2 separate regions of the Homo sapiens genome follow, and region 1 is linked to region 2. A link means that fine-mapping ties the variant in region 2 to the expression of a gene that starts in the linked region. Tissue or cell type: whole blood. Region 2 holds a variant in brackets; the other region holds the start of a gene. All regions are shown on one strand. Distances are between the middles of the regions.

Region 1 (8,177 bases), 35 kb after region 2:
AGTGAGCTGAGGCTGTGCCACTGCATTCCAGCCTTTTTTGAGACTCTGTCTCAAAAAAAAAAAAAAAAAAGAAATAATAAAAATGATGATGGTGATGATGACAGGAAGAGCTAATGTTTCCATACACTCACACTGTGCGAGACACTCTCAGAGGACTATCTTGTTTCATTCCAGCAACCACCCTGTGAGGCAGATGCTGTTAGTAACATTCTACCAAGGAGGAAGCGGAGATTCAGAGCCCAAAGTCATAGGGCAAGGGGGCCTGAGGATCTAGGATAAAGGGAGAGTAAAAGAGCAACGTCGGGCTTGGGGCAAGCCTCAGGGAGGAGGTGATGATGCCCTGTACTTTGAAGGGTGATCTGGAGCTCCTCAGTGGGGGCACAGGAGCAAGCAACCCAGGCAGAGGGACCAGCAAGCACAAAGGGGTGTGTGTGTGTGTGTGTTGGGAGGGGAGGTGGATGAGAACTTTGTGATTCCAGTGACTGACACTCATTCCTGATTAGCATCATTAGAATCACCATCTGAGGGATGTCAATTCCATATGGCTCTACAGCTCTACTATCAACAAGGGCATGGGAGTCGGCAGGCTTGAGAAGAGATGGTACTCCTGCAGCAAGGAGGGGCCTGGTTTACAGAATTATAAGCAGCTATACTGTGTCATCAGTAATCACAGCCAGGGAGCAGTACTTCCTCCGCCTCTTTATCTAAAAGAATATGGAATACTGAGGGGATTAACTCAAACTCTTAATTCTACTTTTGGAGCCTCTTCAGCTTTGGTTTAAATTTCAATGACTCAGTTTTGCTGTCAATTTACTGGGGTCTTGGATGAGTCACAGCCTCCACTTTCCCCTCTCTGGACCTTAGTCTCCGCCAGTGTAAAATGAAGGGGATGGGCTGGAACAGCATTAGCATTACCCGGGAACTCAACAGAAATTCACATTCTAGGCCGGACACGGTGGTCATGCCTGTAATCCCAGTACTTTGGGAGGCTGAGGTGGGTGGGTCACCTGTTCAGGTTTGAGACCAGCCTGGCCAACATGGAGAAACCCCATCTCTATTAAAAATACAAAATTAGTCGGGTGTGGCGGAGCGTGCCTGTAATCCCGGCTACCTTGGGAGGCTGAGGCAGGAGAATCGCTTGAACCCGGGAGGCGGAAGTTGCAGTGAGCCAAGATGGTGCCATTGCACCCCAGCCTGGGCAACAAGAGCGAAACGCAGTCTCAAAAAAAAAAAAAAAAAAAAAAGAAAAAGAAAAAGAAAAAGAAAAAAAAAGAAATTCACATTCTAGAGTCCCACCGCAGACCTGGAGAGTCAGAAACTCTGGGGTTGGGGCCCCGACATTATTTAACAAGCCCTCCTAGGAATTCTGATGAGAACCACTGGGTTAGAAGATCCCCAAGGTAAGGCTCTTTTACCTGCAAAATTCCATTTGTGCTTTAAGGTATTATGATTTAGTAGCATTCTCTTTGCACAGAAGTATTTCTTGCCCAAGAAAGGCAACGCTTCAAGGTAAGAAGAGAAGTTTGCTTTGATTAGCTGAAATCCAGAACCCAGGTGAGCTTTTCCAGAAAGCCTTAAGAGTATGTGGCTGACTTTGAAGCCAGGTCTTTTATTTACTTGTTTATTTTTAAGTAGTAAGTCTTAAACTTGGCATGTGATAAAAGCAGTGGTTTCTGTAGTCAGAGAAATATAGATGAGAGGAGAGCTGCCTTCTCTTTTCAGCTCCAAAAAACCATGACTCACTGTGGGGTGGGTGTGTGTCCGGGGAGGGCAGGGGTCCTTTGAGAGGGCAGTTCCTCTCCCTGGTTCAGGAGCTTCCTGGTGTGTAAATCCTGGACTGCCACCTCCCCCTTGGAGAGCATTGATTACAAAACCTCGGAAGAGCCACCGACAGCCACGGTGGCGATTACAACACAGAGCCGGGTCGACAAGCTTTCGTGAGGTTTCGCAAGACACTAAGAATGGAAAATATGTCTCATCTTAAAGTTTTCCCAGTCTGGACTTAAGACGAAAAGTCGTCATCAAAAAAGATGAAGAGTAATTTCACGGTAATGCGATGGTTTCTTCATGCAAGAATGCGGAACACCCAAACCATCCTCCGGAGAAGTGTGGCTGTTTGGGTGAAGGCATGTCGGTTCTCATGGTGTTGGTGCCCAAGAATGAGCACCTATGAGATCTACTGCCAAGCGATTTCCAGGGATTCCTAACCTTCACTTGGTGATCTCAGGAACAACGTGTGTGTGTAAATACATATAATATATATGTATGTGTATGTATATGTATGTTTGTATGTGTATATTTTTATATATATGTGTGCGTGTGTGTGTGTGTATGTGTATGTGTTTCAAGAGATGGGCTCTCCCTGCGTCGTCCAGGCTGGAGTACAGTGGCGCCATCAGGGCTCACTGCAGCCCTGACCTCCCAGATCCAATAAATCCTCCCAGCTCTGCCTACCGAGTGGCTGGGTGCACAGGCACGCACCACCACGCCCGGCTAATTTCTGTATTTTTTTTTTTTTTTTTTTTTGTAGAGACGGGGTCTCGCCATGTTGCCCAGGCTGGTCTCGAACTCCTGGGCTCAAGCGATCTGCCCGCCTTGGCCTCCCAAAGTGCTGGGATTACAGGCGGGAGCCACCGTGCCCAGCCCAGTGATAATAAATATTACAACTGTTTTTTTTTATATGGCACTGGCCATGTACCAGGCATTGTTCTAAGTATTTCACATTTATTAAGGAATTTAATCTTCACAACAAGCCCACGGAGGTGGGGACCATTATTGCCCGCCAACTACAGGTGAGGAAACCTCGGCCCAGGGAGGCTGCGTCACAGAACTGTGAGTATCCTGTCACCAGGGTGCAGAGAACCACGGACCAGCAGACAGGCGCCAGGTGCCCTGGGCTTGGCTTGGCCCGAGTTCCCGGCTGCCCCACCTACGGAGCACCGAGATGGGCTGACCAGGAGGGTTTGTCCGACCACTGTCTGCTCAGGTTCTGAGAGTCTGTGCGGGTCCATTTGAGGTTGGGTCGAGAAAAGAGCCCAGGCGGACACGTCCTGAGACCCGGGTCTGTGAGGCCTGGCCGCGGGCTGTCCGGCGCTGGGCCCCTCTGGCCAGTTGGCCCCAAGACGCCAAGCCCGGGGCTTCGCGGTCCTGGGAGAAGGGACTTCTAGCCCTTCTCAGGTGTCTGTGTCCGGAGGGCCCGGTGAGCCAGGAAGGAGCTGGCCAGAGCCCAGGCGGCGGGACCCAGCAGAGTGGCCCAGCCACTGCCAACCACGCAGTCCCTTTAACCACGAAAACTTTCTCCCTCGATTGGGGACCCCAGCAGACGCACATTGGCTGCGCCGTGGGCATCCGGACCCACCCTCTCTCCTTACCTACTGGCTGTCATATACATCTATCACAAGCCAAGGCTTCCTAATGGCCCAAGTTCTTGTCAATCAAGAGTGGGAGGAAAGCTGGGCGGAGCCAGGTCGGAGAGCTACACGCCAGCCTCCTTGCCCTCCCTGCCTCCGTGACTAGGCACCCGGAGGCTTCCCAGGGGACCGAAGCTGGGTGCGGAGCACCGGGGCGGAGCTGTGGGGGGCTCCAGGGACTCACCGATGCGCTGTCCCACTGGAGAGCTGAACGGGTTCCCCAGGAGAAAGTCCATTGCTGCTACCGCCGCTGCCACCAACCCCGGGAATCAGCTGACAGCAACCGCCAGCGCCACCGACCCGTCACGTGACGCACTCGGAGGCCGGCGAGGAGGCGTGGGCGGGGCGGTGGCACCGCGAAGCTCGACCACAAGCCCCGCCCTGAGACGCCAGGGTCCCGCCCCCGAGGCGGAGGGCGATGACCTCACTGCGGCTTGCTCGGCGGCGGCGGGCGTCACACACGATGTAGGGTCTGGGGTCGGGGCCCGGGAAGCGCGGTCCTCTTTAAGCCACGCCCCTGACCTTTTAGGGCGAGGTCTAAAGGACCCTTTACACATTTGGGAAACTGGGTCGTAGACCAGGGAAGTGACTTGGGTGAGTTACACAGAAGCCGAGACTCTTAGGGTCATAGCCCTTAGTCCTTGGGACCTCACTGTGACTGCACACCTACCCTGGGTGACAGCCTCTCTGGGCTGTTGTCTCCTTGTCCCGGTAAGACTCTTCCTGTTTGATGTCAAGGTCTCCCCGCTCCAAGATGCACCCTGCTCGCAGCCCAAATTATCTTACCTTAAATCAGAGGCAAGGGCAAGGGGTTTGTCATCTGTTGAGACTGAGAGGCAATTTAATGAATTGCAGCGCAATTCCCTCTAGCGCCCAGGATGGCAAAAAGCACAGATGTAGTCACGAGTGGGGCTTTAATACCCGTCTCTGCCATAAATTTACTGTGTGAGCCAAACATAGCTCCCATTTTCTCTAGATACTGGAATTAGATCAAGGACTCGTAACCATTTTTAAAAAATATTTTATTTAGGTCACAGTCTCCTTTGAGAATTTGACAAAAGCCATGAGCCTTTCTGAAGAAAAAAGGCAGCGATACAATTTTGCTTATAACCTCAGGGAGTTTCTGGGGTCCCTGAAGTACAACCGTGGACCCCAAGCTAAGAATCTCAAAGGCCTTTCCCAGCGTTGTGATTCTAATCTCTTCAGCCTTCCTGGCTGTGTGTGGTGTGTCTGCTGACACCTACACACTAGATACCTATCTATGGGTTATGACCTTTTCTTCTGGCATGTACTCCAAAAATACAATAACCATGGCCTTAGTAGTCTGGCTACTGTGGGTGCTTAAGTACTTATTGTGATGTTTGTGGTTTTTAAATCTGAAAGGCTAGTAAATTGACTGCACAAATTTTGGATGACAGAAAACCTAAATTAAGCAAGGTGTGGTGGCTCACGCCTGTAATCCCAACATTTTGGGAGGCTGAGGCAGGTGGATCACCTGAGGTCAGGCATTCAAAACAAGCCTAGCCAACATGGTAAAATGCCGTCTCTACTAAAAATACAAAAATTAGCCAGGTGTGGTGGTACACGCCTGTAGTCCCAGCTACTTGGGAGGCTGAGGCATGAGAATTGCTTGGACCCAGGGGGGCAGAGATTGCAGTGAGCTGAGATCGTGCCACTGCACTCCAGCCTGGGTGACAGAGTAAGGCTGTGTCTTAAAAAAAAAAACAAACCTAAATTAGAACTTAATCACCTCTGTAGATTCACTTGTTTGAGCAGCCATGGGGTCCGATGTCTTTACTGTACAATATAAAAACTGCTTTGAAGTGTTTCCACAACACTCATGAGACCTGTTCACAAATGCCTTTGCCCCCACGAGTCTGGATGTCCCTGGGGGCTGGGCTACTATTTCTGTTTTGCTCCCCACTATTGTCTAACCCAGTAACTAGCACATGAAAGCTTAAATAGATCTACGTTTCAGTAATGGTATTTGGAGTATAAGCGGGGAGAAGGCCATTTAAGATGACCTTCAGGTCAAGGCACTTTCCATGTCTTTCTTCACTTAACCTTATTGCTTGGTCATATGGAGTTATGTTTAGCATGAACTTCTTTTGGATTCTTCCATTAACCTTTATTTATTTATTTTTAGAGGCAAAGTCTCACTATGTTGCCCAGGCTGGTCCTTGAACTTCTGAGCTCAAGTGATCCTCCCACCTCAGCCTCCCAAAGCCCTGGGTTACAGGCATGAGCCACCATCTCTGGCCCTTCCTTTAAGCTTTTAACAAGTTCTTGTAAACTTTATTCATGGTAAAAAAAAAAAAAAAAAAAAACAAAAAAAAACAAAAACAGAGACAACTCATATGCCCCCAAACAGGAAGTGGAATCATAAACTCCATGCAGGCTGGGCACGGTGGCTCACACCTGTAATCACAGCACTTTGGGAGACCCAGGCAGGCAGATCACGAAGTCAGGAGATCAAGACCATCCTGGCTAACACGGTGAAACCCCATCTCTACTAAAAAAATAGAAAAAATTAGCTGGGCGTGGTGGTGGGCGCCGTGGTGGGCGCCTGTAGTCCCAGCTACTCGGGAGGCTGAGGCAGGAGAATGGCGTGAACCTGGTAGGCGGAGCTTGCAGTGAGCAGAGATTGCACCACTGCACTCCAGCCTGGGAGACAGAGCGAGACTCCGTCTCAAAAAAAAAAAGAAAAACAACTCCATGCAAACTGATTACTATATAGCTATTGAAACAGAAATGGAAGTATATGGATTTATTTATTTATTTATTTTTAAAGACAGAGTCTCTGTCACCCAGGCTGGCGTACAGTGGTACAACTGTAGCTCACCGTAGCCCTGATCTCCTGGGCTCAAGTGTCTTCCCACTTCAGCCTCTTGAGTAGGTGGGACTGCAGATGCATGCCACCATACCTGGCTAATATCTTTTAGTTTTTGTAGAGATGGGGTTTTGCTATATTCTCCAGGCTGGTCTCAAACACCTGGCCACAAATGATCCTCCTGACTTAGTCTCCCAAAGTGCTGGGATTACAGACACGAGCCACTGCACCTGGCCAGTATATGGATTTTATCAACATAGTAGATAGGGATGTAAATGGCAAACATTAAAGTTAGTACAAAACTGATTAAAACTGTCTTTAAAAAGTGTGCTAATAAGGAGCAAACTGATTTAGTAAAAAGTGTTTCAATTTACTTTTTAAGTGTTTTAGTAAAATTAATATCATGCCTTACTGAGGGTTAAAATGTTCAAATTTCTTAAGATTGACAGTCTGCATAAATGTAATCTATTAAATCCTTTAAGTGCTTACAGACAAAAATCAAGATACCTTGCCTTCAAAATTTAAAGACAATAGTATGACAAGAGTGAAAGCCAGCTAGATACCCGAACAATGCAAAGATCTGAGACAGCATTCCCACAATCACATTCGCTCAGGACTTGAGATAATGGAAAGCATTCTGATGAATTATAGACATGATTTAAATCTGAAAGTAGCTTGGGGTAGAAAAGAGCCTAGGGTTTGGGGTCAGCTGTTTCACTGTTCTTAATCTGCCTTTGCCATTTACTAGCAGTATAAACTTAGGAAAAGTACTTTTTCGCATCTATAAAGGGAGATAATATTCTTAAGGCTTTGGGCGGAGGATGAGTGAGACAAAGTATGCAAATCACTCTAATAGTCACTCAGTGATACGGTAGTCTCTTCCTTGCTGCCTTTCCATAAGACATTAGCCTTGTAATTAATCATATTATTTTACTATTTATGACTTTTAACACCTTGTGTTTGCACTGAAGTTTTTACCTTGAAAGGTCATATCTCCATATATTCAGTGTTCATAATGTTATTAAACATTCATGTCAGGCTGGCTGGCTGCAGGTCTACAGACAGGGAAGTGACTTTAACACTATTCTATAGATGGGACTTTGGAAGCCTATAAAGATTAAGTAACTTATCAACAGCATTACTGTAATGCTAACAGGACAGTACTGAAACATATCATTTAGCACATGATTCAGATGCAACCCTTATATAAGATTAATCAACATTTTCTTGATTTAGGCCAACACCATAATGCACATAGTTTCATTTGCCAATAAATGGAGGTGGAATTATCAGATTCACTAAATTTGCAATTTGCAAAAGAGAAAATGAGAACCTCTACAATGTAAAAGTTAATAGAAGCAGAGTAAGGAGTATATTAAGAAAATGGCTAAGATTAGAAATTTAATCTCCATTGTGGGTTGATTTTTTTCTTAAGAAAATTATGGTAGAATAGAGTGAAAAACAGGTTTTATAATTTCATAGCAACTATGATGATCATGATTAGGGAAAAGACAGCTGAGACTGGACTACAAATATTAAAAATGTGATTTTTAATAATATAAGTACAAAATTTTATTTCTTTATACAACTGTAATGGGATTTGGATCAAACCACTAGAATTTATTTAAAAAACAAAATAAAACAATGATATAAAAACTGCAAGAAGGTCTGAATCCAAAGTTTTTCCTCTAATAGTACCAAATACCACAAGGTACAGATTATTATACAAATGTGTACAAATTTTAAATACAAATACAATAGGGCTGGGTTTCAAAGGAAAACAAACAAAAAGCAGGTCCTCATCAGGATTTCATTAATGTATATAAATGACAATGCTAGGATTAATGTCTTCCTATACTATCCATGTCTTCCCCGCCCCTCCTAGATACCCTGTGTCAAACAGGAAACTTCCACAGATACAGAAGAGGCATGGTACA
Region 2 (8,177 bases):
CAGGATTGGCCAAACTCAGGAGACTGATAAATAGCTCCAGTGCCCGTAGGCTCATGGAGAATTCCCAGCAGACCCTTTCTTGAGCAGATCTTGTTTCCTATTTTATAGACTGTGGTTGTGTATGAGGTCGTATTTGAATGGGGGATTCCATTCTGCTGCTGAAAACACATCTATAAACTGCTGGGTGAGGTGCCATCTTGTCTTGCACTGGCTCACCAGCACAAAGATGACTCTGCCCCCACCTTGTCTCAGCAGCATGGGAGGTGGCTTGGTTACAGCTCTTCTAAATGTCCTCTGGGGGGTGCCAGCCAGCTAGGCAGGGTGGGGAGGCAGGAACTGGGAGGGCACGCAAGGCTGATGGGCTGGGAGCGGCAGAGGCTGACCCCACAGTTGCTGGGCAGATGAGGAGAGGCAAGGAAGGGTATGTTGTGTGTGAGGTTAAGTCTCCTGGGGAGCAAGAGAATAACCTGAGTGAGAGGAGAAGCTGGCTAAGGAGGAGAGGCGGCTATGGTGTCTTTCCCAGCTGCCGCAGTGGGGGTGCCCAGGGCAGGTGTTGGGGACCCAGCCCTGTTGCAGGGAAAGAGCCCTGTTATTCTCGCCCTGAACTGCCGGCAGACAGGACTTCAGCACTGGCTCAGTGCAGCTTTGAGGCAAAGAAGTAAGCCACAGAATTCTGGTCACAAAGGGAAAGGCCTGCGATTCCTGTTAGGAACAAGGCCACCTGACACGCTAGTGAAGCGGGGCTGGTCTAACTGTAGGCTTCAGGAACTGGGACTGCATCACATTTAACTCTTGCAATACCAGCTTGCTTTCTGAGGAATGGAGTAGGCTGGCACTGAAAGGGGCTTCTTGAATATGACCCCCAGTTCCCACGCAGTCATTTTGAAGAGTGCTGCTGTCTGTTCCTTCCCACCAGGGGCAGAGTTTGCTGGTGGAGTGTGACCACTAGCTGGGGCATTCCCTGGTTACACGGCTCCCATCCATGGCAAGTGGGCCAGTGACTACGGCAGGGCCCTGCTGGAGCCAACCTTAAAGCCAGTGGCGGGGGAGGTGGGGCGTCAGGTTGCTGACTTCTGACCCAGAGAAGGCCTGCTAATTGAGGGTCTGGAGGTGCTTGTTGCTGTCTCTAAGACATGCTTGGCGCATTGTGGGCAAGGCTGAAGAAGCCATGCCCAGCCCCAGAACACGCAGAAACCCATGATTTCCCTTCACTCAAAACAACTATCTGGGCCAGGTGCAGTGGCTGAAATCCCAGCACTTTGGGAGGCCAAGGCGCGCGGATCACGAGGTCAGGAGATCGAGACCATGCTGGCTAACATGGTGAAACCCCGTCTCTACTAAAAATACAAAAAATTAGCCAGGTGTGGTGGTGGGCGCCTGTAGTCCCCAGCTACTCGGGAGGCTGAGGCAGGAGAATGGCGTGAACCCAGGAGGTGGAGCTTGCACTCTGCAAGCGCCACTGCACTCCAGCCTGAGAGACAGAGCGAGACTCCGGCTCAAAAAAAAAAAAAAAAGAACTATCTGCCCTTCCTAAGCTTAGCTCCTCGCCACCCCTGCCCACACATGGCCCTGAAGCCCAGCTGTCCCTGAAGGCCATGCCTGTGGTGGTGGAGGGCCAAGCACTTCCCTGGAGGAAGCCCGCACCTCCTGCACTGGGTGGTGACCCCTGGGCTAGGGCCTGCTGCCCCCTGCCCAGTGCAGGAGGGTGGAGGGTCACTCCTTAGGTGGTCCCAGTGGGGCTGGTGGGCAGGGGCTGCACCTGGGCCACTGGGGTGACACTTGTCTAAGTGCTCCTTGTAGAGAAGGCCTCTGTGTACAGCAGCACTGACGAAGATGCGGACAAAGCGGGGGAAGGACACCCCTGCCTTTGTGAAGGCCTAGCCGAGGCGTCTCTGCTGTGGCTCGCCCAGAAGCCCTGCTACTCCTTGGCATTGAGTGGATAGGACTGGCTGCAGGAAGGCTGTGACGGTGCCAGCTGTGGTCAAGGCTGGAGCAGAAACAGCGGCTGATAAGGAGCTGGTTTCCCTGCCAGCCAGGGCAGAGCTGGTTGCAGGCTGGTGTGAAGTGGGGAGCCAGGCAGGTACAGGGAGGAGCGGGCTGGACACCAAGCTGGCAGAAAAGGCCAGTCAGGTGACCAGAGCTGGAAGATCCACCAGAAGCATTTAAGGGGGCCAGCCAGGCAGGAGAACAAAGGGAAGACGAAATGGATGCTCAGGTCCACGCCTGACCTTGCTGGATGTTTTCTGCCAGGGTGGAAACCAAGCCCTGGGGAGGGCCTGCAGGAGAACCAATGGCCTGAGAAGGTGCATGATGTCATTTCAGCTGTGCTCAGCTGAAGGCAGTTTCAAAGATGAAAATCTGATAAGAAAAAAGATCCTTCCTGTGCTCCCTCCTGCTCATGTTAGAATAAAATCAACTGCCTCTCTGTAGCCCAGTGGGCCCCACCACCCTCTCAGCATCCTGCCCCCTTCCCTGTGTGAAGAGCATCTTTCCCAGCTGCTGTGCGGGAGCCAGGGCACCTCTCTCCCGCCCTGCCTCTGAGACTTTGCACATGCTGTTCCTAGTGCCTGAAATGGCCTTCCTATCACCCAGCACCTGGTCCAGCTCTGAGTACCCTCCGCAGAGTTGCATGCTCCCTCCTCTGTGTCCACAGAGCCTGGTGCCCCCTCCAGGACAGCACTTAGCCCTTCACAGCGGTGGTCCTGGTGCATGTCACTCTCCCATGAGACTGCAGGCCCTAGAGGACAAGTTCCTTGTGTGCTTTTCCCTGTCCCCCGGAGCCTGCTCCCCAGAGGAAGGACAGCGCAACAGCATACCTCAGCCAGGCTGGTGACCAGGGCAGGCGCCAGGGTTCTCCAGTATGGCCAGCAGTGTTGCCTGCTGGGGCCTCTGTGGATGGGCGTGTCTGGCTGCAAGTCCCATCACACTCATTAGCTTGCCTTTGCAGGGTAGCCTCGGCAGCACCCCTAACTCCATGGCAACAGCTGCTGGTCCCAGGGTACCTGGGCTTAAAAGTACAGACTCTGCCCAGACTAAAGAAAGATACAGCTAACAGCCAGGGCAGCCCTAAGGACCTAGCAGGCTACAGCCTGGACCTGGATTTGTGGGTGTGGAGAGGTTATCCCTGGGCTCTCTGGAGGCCCATTGACAAAGTTCCAAAAGACACCAGAATGACCTCTAAGGAGCTGAGTGGGGTCAGTGGGAAGATCCCATAATCTAGAACTTTCCTTAGCTATAAGAATCCTGGCTGCCCACAGCTCAGCCCTGGGGGTCACAGTGGGCAAAAGGCTGAAGAAAACATCAAGCAGACTGTTCCTCTTACAAGCCTGTACGGGGCCAGTTCTCCCGCAGGTCCCGGCAAGGGGTCAGACCCTGGTGGACACACTCAGGCCACGTGCCTATGCTGCTGAAAGTACCCCCTGAAAATGCACGGTGCACAGGGAAGGGCAGAGCCCCAGCTCTGGGGCAAGGCTGACAGAACCTGCTTAATCTTCTCTGGAAATTAACGGTGGCTATGGAACAACAGAAAAAGACTTGACTTGAAAGTCCCTGAGGATTTATCAGGAAACTTCCCTGCTCCTGGAGGGCTTACTATGCGGTACACAGTGCAGGGAGGGGGGCGGGGGGTGGAGACACTGTGTTTTGGAACCAGACAGCCCTAGGCTCCTAACCTAGTGCTGCCAAATATTAGCTCCTTGACCTGGGGCAAATGAGCCTGCCCCTCTCTGTGCCTCAGTTTCCCCCTCTGATCAGACTATGTAAGATTCTGGCATACAGTGGGTCATTAGGCTCCCCCTCCCCCACCCAGCATGGCCTGTGGGGAGCGCAGTCTGTCAACTGACCACAGGGCTCCCAGGCCATGCTGGACTGACTTAGGGGATACTAAGGGCGTGCTTACTAAGCAGGGTCCGTGTGCCCTTCCTCATGGTGTGCCACCATAAAACCGGGTTCCAGAACCCCGAGAGCCACCCGAACTGCAGGGGACCAGGGCAGGGCCAGGCCACTCACTCTTTCCGTTGGTCAGCCAGTGAGCTGCCCCGTGTCAGCGCAAACATGTCAAACTCATCTTCCAGTCGACCAGAGGCCTCCAGAGACTGCAGGCCAGCTCTCACACTGCTGGAGCCCAGGTCTGCAGGGACAGAAAGGCCACGTGAAAGACCCATCCACAAGCTTGTGTGTGAGCTGCTGCTGAGCTACCTGCTGCCAGACCCAGGGCTTGGTGCTGGGGAAGTGGCACGTGTGGGTGGGGGAATGCGCGAGGCAGGCCACCTGCTGCTGGCTGTGGGGCCTTGGGCAAGCGGCTTCCTCTTCCCAGCTTTAGTTTACTCACCCCTCTTGGGGCTGCTGTGAGCGTTAGAGAACAG[T/G]CAAAACGCTATCCATTGATTCTGCTGGGGAAGTGGCTGGGCAGGAGGACAGTAATCAGATGGGTAGTCGATTTTTTCAAAAAGTATAGCATTAGTGATGCAAAATGGGGTGCTAATGATTTCCTAGGGCTTGGCATGAAGCAGACAGTAAATTATATTAAAACCTATCACAGTGATAACAGTGACAATGGCCAACTACTCAGCCAGAGTGCAACCTGGGCCTGGCATGGTCTAAGCGCTTCTCATACACGAGCTCCCTACTCCTGTTAAAGAGGAGGAAAGAGAGGCTCAGGAGGTTTAAGGAACTTGCCCAAGCTCACGCAGATGATTGAAGCCATGGAGAATTCAGTGTAGAGGGCCAATCCTAGGATGGTAGGATTTCTGAGATCCAAGGCGGCTCAGGACTTGTGGGGCTGCCAGGGGCAGTGACCCCGAGTGCCCCACCTTGCAGCAAGATTCAGCCTGGGACCCCAGCAAGGTGGGGTCCAGACTGACACTCTGCTGTGGGTATATAACAAGGGCACCCCGAAAATCTGCAGGGGTGCCCACAGTACCATAATGTACCCTCAGCTGGAGCCCTCCAAACCACACTTACTCATTCCTGCCAGCTGGGATGAGAGGTTGCCGGTGGCTGCTGGGTCAGGGCCCATGTCGATCAGGTCAGCTGCCGGCTCGGCCTCACTTGGGGCCTGGTGGGAAGGGAGATGCCCTGATCATCCCCGCTGTCTGCAGCTTCGTTCCTTTCTGCCCCAAGCACTGTGGCTTGCAGGCTTTGCCCAGGGATCTGTCACCAGGGCCCCAGGAGCTAGGACTGGGCATCAGGGAATTTCCTTCCTCCCCTCTGGCTCCAGCTCAACTGGACTCCCTGGGAGGTTGGGGAGACCCTGGGGCATCAGGTGGTGGCACAGCCTTATTTACCTTAAAGGGACAGGGACATAAAAAGTTAGAAGGGGATTTCTCTATGGGCCTGGATAAGACAGCACCACCCTGTCCAGTTTACTAGGGGAGGGAGGTGAGAATGGCACTCCTTCTTCCCATGAACAGGGCCTGATCTAGTCACAGAAAAGAAGACTTTTACCTTGGTGGTCTGGCCTGTTCGGAACCGTTCAAACCTACAAGACAGAAAAGACACGAGTTATGGAGACAGACTGAGACAGGCCCCCACACACGGCCAGGCAGAGCTTTTCAAACTGTGGGTCTCAACATCAACACGGTGGGTTATGATCAGGGTGATGACACGTCTGGTGTGCCCTGGACAGATCCAGTTCATGCCTGCTGTCCCTGGGTAACTAGCAGTGCTCCTCTTTCCCTTGCAAAAGTGTCCCAATTTGGATGATCAATTATAAGGCAACCTTAGTCATGAGTAGCATGAAACAAATAAACAGGAATAGGTTAGAACAGCAAAGAAAATAGGAATGCATGGCACGCAGTAAAGGTAAGGACTGTCTTATGAAACTTGTTTCAATTACATATTTGTGTGTGTGTATGTGTGTGTGTGTGTGTGTGTTAGTGCTCTCTTCAGTGCTGTAAGAAAGATACATGTATCTCTAATCTTGTTTTATGGAGCTACTTAGGGGCCGGTGTGATAGATCGAGAAGACTTTAGTGTGGGGTCTGTTCAAGTCGTGGCCTTGTCACTTATCACATGACCTCGGGTAAATTATGTTCCTTCTGAACTTTAGTCTGCTTGTCTAGTATCTGTAGGCACCTGCCTCCCTGAAGTGCTGAAGCCCAAATTAGGACATGGGTATAAGTGACTGCGAGCTTGAAAGCACAGTCAGATATTAAGCCTAATGACTGTGGATATCTGAGGGTACCAGCTGCTACCAGATGGGGCCCCTCAGTCACCTCACAGCCCATACCCCAAAATGGCAGGGAAGAGGCCTTTCATTCCACTGGGCCAACGAGCAGGAGAAGCTAGGCAGACGTGACCTGCAGGGTACCCCCCACTTTCCACTGATTTAGAATCAATCAGTGAGTGTCTTTTGATGGAGAAAGACACAAAAAATGAACAAGGGGCTGGAGGAGGCTGGAATAACTCATGTCAGTTATCAGACACCCTGGACTGCTAAGCGCTTTACAGACACTGTTTCATGGACTCTCACTTATGCCACAAGCCTCATTTTACAGATACAGAGGAGGTGTGATGGGCACACAATTTCTGCAGACCCAGCAATCCTTCTCCTTCTCTTTCCTTTTTTTTTTTGAGATGGAGTCTTGCTCTGTCGCCTAGGCTGGAGTGCAGTGGTGCGATCTCGGCTCATTGCAACCTCTGCCTCCTGGGTTCAAGCAATTCTCCTGCCTCAGCCTCCCAAGTAAGCTGGGATTACAGGCACCCACCACCACCTCCGGCTAATTTTTTTGTATTTTTTAGTAGAGACGGGGTTTCACCATGTTGGCCTGGCTGGTTGCAAACTCCTGGCCTCAAGTGATCCTCCCGGCTCAGCCTCCCAAAGTGCTAGGATTACAGGTGTGAGCCACTGCGCCCAGCCCTTCTCCTTCTTTTGTAATAGCACCTAAGTACTCTTTAGAGGAACTGCTCCTCCCCCATTTCACATCATCCCGGTGGGGCTGCCATCAAAGGGCCCTCTCCCATACCCCAGCTGGTAGGCACAATGAAGCTCAGCCAATCCAAGTCTCTCTTGGGGATGTGACTCTTGAACAGAATGATACAAGGTGGGCAGGTGGGTGTGGTGGCTCATGCCTGTAATACCAATGCTTTCGGAGGCCAAGGAGGGAGGACTGCTTGAGGCCAAGAGTTTGAGACTAGCCTGGGCAACACAGTGAGACCCCTGTCTCTGCAAAAAGAAAAAAAAAAAAAGAAAAGAAAATTAGCTGGGTGTGGTGGTGCATGCCTGTAGTCCCGGCTACCTGGCAGGCTGAGGTGGGAGGACTGCTTGAGCCCAGGAGGTTGAGGCTGCAGTGAGCTGTGATCATGCCACTATACTCCAGCCTGGGTGACAGAGCAAGATCGTGCCTCAAAAAAAAAAAAAAAAAAAAGGTGGACAGGTGTTTGTGGACAAGTGTTTGAGCTGATGTATTTATTGATGGCAGCACCCTGGGGAGATGGTCCAGGAATTTCTGCTCCTGAGACATCTGAGCTGCCCTGGGATCCATCTTTCTTGTTCTGTTGGGAGACATCAGTTTCACTTTTCTCTGGATTCTGAAAGCTACCCATTTAATAAAGATTATTATCCTAACAAATTCTTTTTCTGCCTAAGTTAGCCAGAAATGTTTTGTGTAGCTTGCAGCAGTGAAGTCACTTGTCTAAGGCCCCAGAACCAGGAAGTGGTGGAGTGGGCGAGGACACACCAGGCCAGTCTGGTTGCAGGGCCGTGCTCTCAGCTGTGACCTGTGACCATCTCCCAGGGCTGGACTTGGGCACAGGCAGCAGCGCTAACCCTGGAAAGGAGATACAGGGCGGCTGGAAGGAGGGGCCCTCATAAACATCCTGGAAGAAGACAGCTGAGGGCACAGGCCCTTAGGAGCCTGCCTTGTGTTTGAGAGGAGGACGAGAGAAGGCTCAGATGGCATGAGACCAGGAGAACAGGGAGGAAGGGAAGGGAGAGGGTTGGGGCAGTAGGCCAGAGGCCAGGGGAGGTGCTGGGGCTACCGTTCATGGCGCAGGAACACATTGTTGAGATTGTCATTGACGATGAGCAGCTCCTCTGTCAGCTGCTCATTGGCGATCTGAGGGATGAGCTCCAGGACCCGCTGCTGCATGGCTCGGCACGTGCGGTTGAGCTCCTGCCAGGAAAGGAAGTGAGGCAACCACAGTCACATGACTCAGAGTGAGGCCGTCTCTTTTTTTTTT

The links. PIP is the estimated chance that this variant, and not a neighbour inherited with it, causes the effect.
Region 1: it holds the start of TOM1, and the variant in region 2 is fine-mapped to the expression of TOM1 in whole blood (INTERVAL, PIP above 0.99).

The regions. Positions count from the first base shown.
Region 1 is chr22:35,295,398-35,303,574 of GRCh38, reverse strand. It overlaps TOM1 (target of myb1 membrane trafficking protein), which reads right to left and starts at 3,681. Exons shown (of 15, transcript NM_005488.3): 1 at 3,595-3,681. The coding sequence starts at 3,646. HMGXB4 (HMG-box containing 4) reads right to left here. Exons shown (of 11, transcript NM_001003681.3): 11 at 7,768-8,177. RefSeq lists enhancers at 2,016-2,537, 2,948-3,107, 3,061-3,583, 3,508-3,657, 3,584-4,106.
Region 2 is chr22:35,330,280-35,338,456 of GRCh38, reverse strand. It overlaps TOM1 (target of myb1 membrane trafficking protein), which reads right to left. Exons shown (of 15, transcript NM_005488.3): 8 at 7,977-8,110; 9 at 5,443-5,476; 10 at 4,960-5,053; 11 at 4,009-4,129. It overlaps MIR3909 (microRNA 3909), which reads right to left and starts at 2,817; the gene lies at 2,699-2,817. MIR6069 (microRNA 6069) reads left to right here and starts at 1,658; the gene lies at 1,658-1,736. RefSeq lists enhancers at 733-1,642, 7,597-8,097. The variant T/G (reference allele first, on the strand shown) is at 4,365.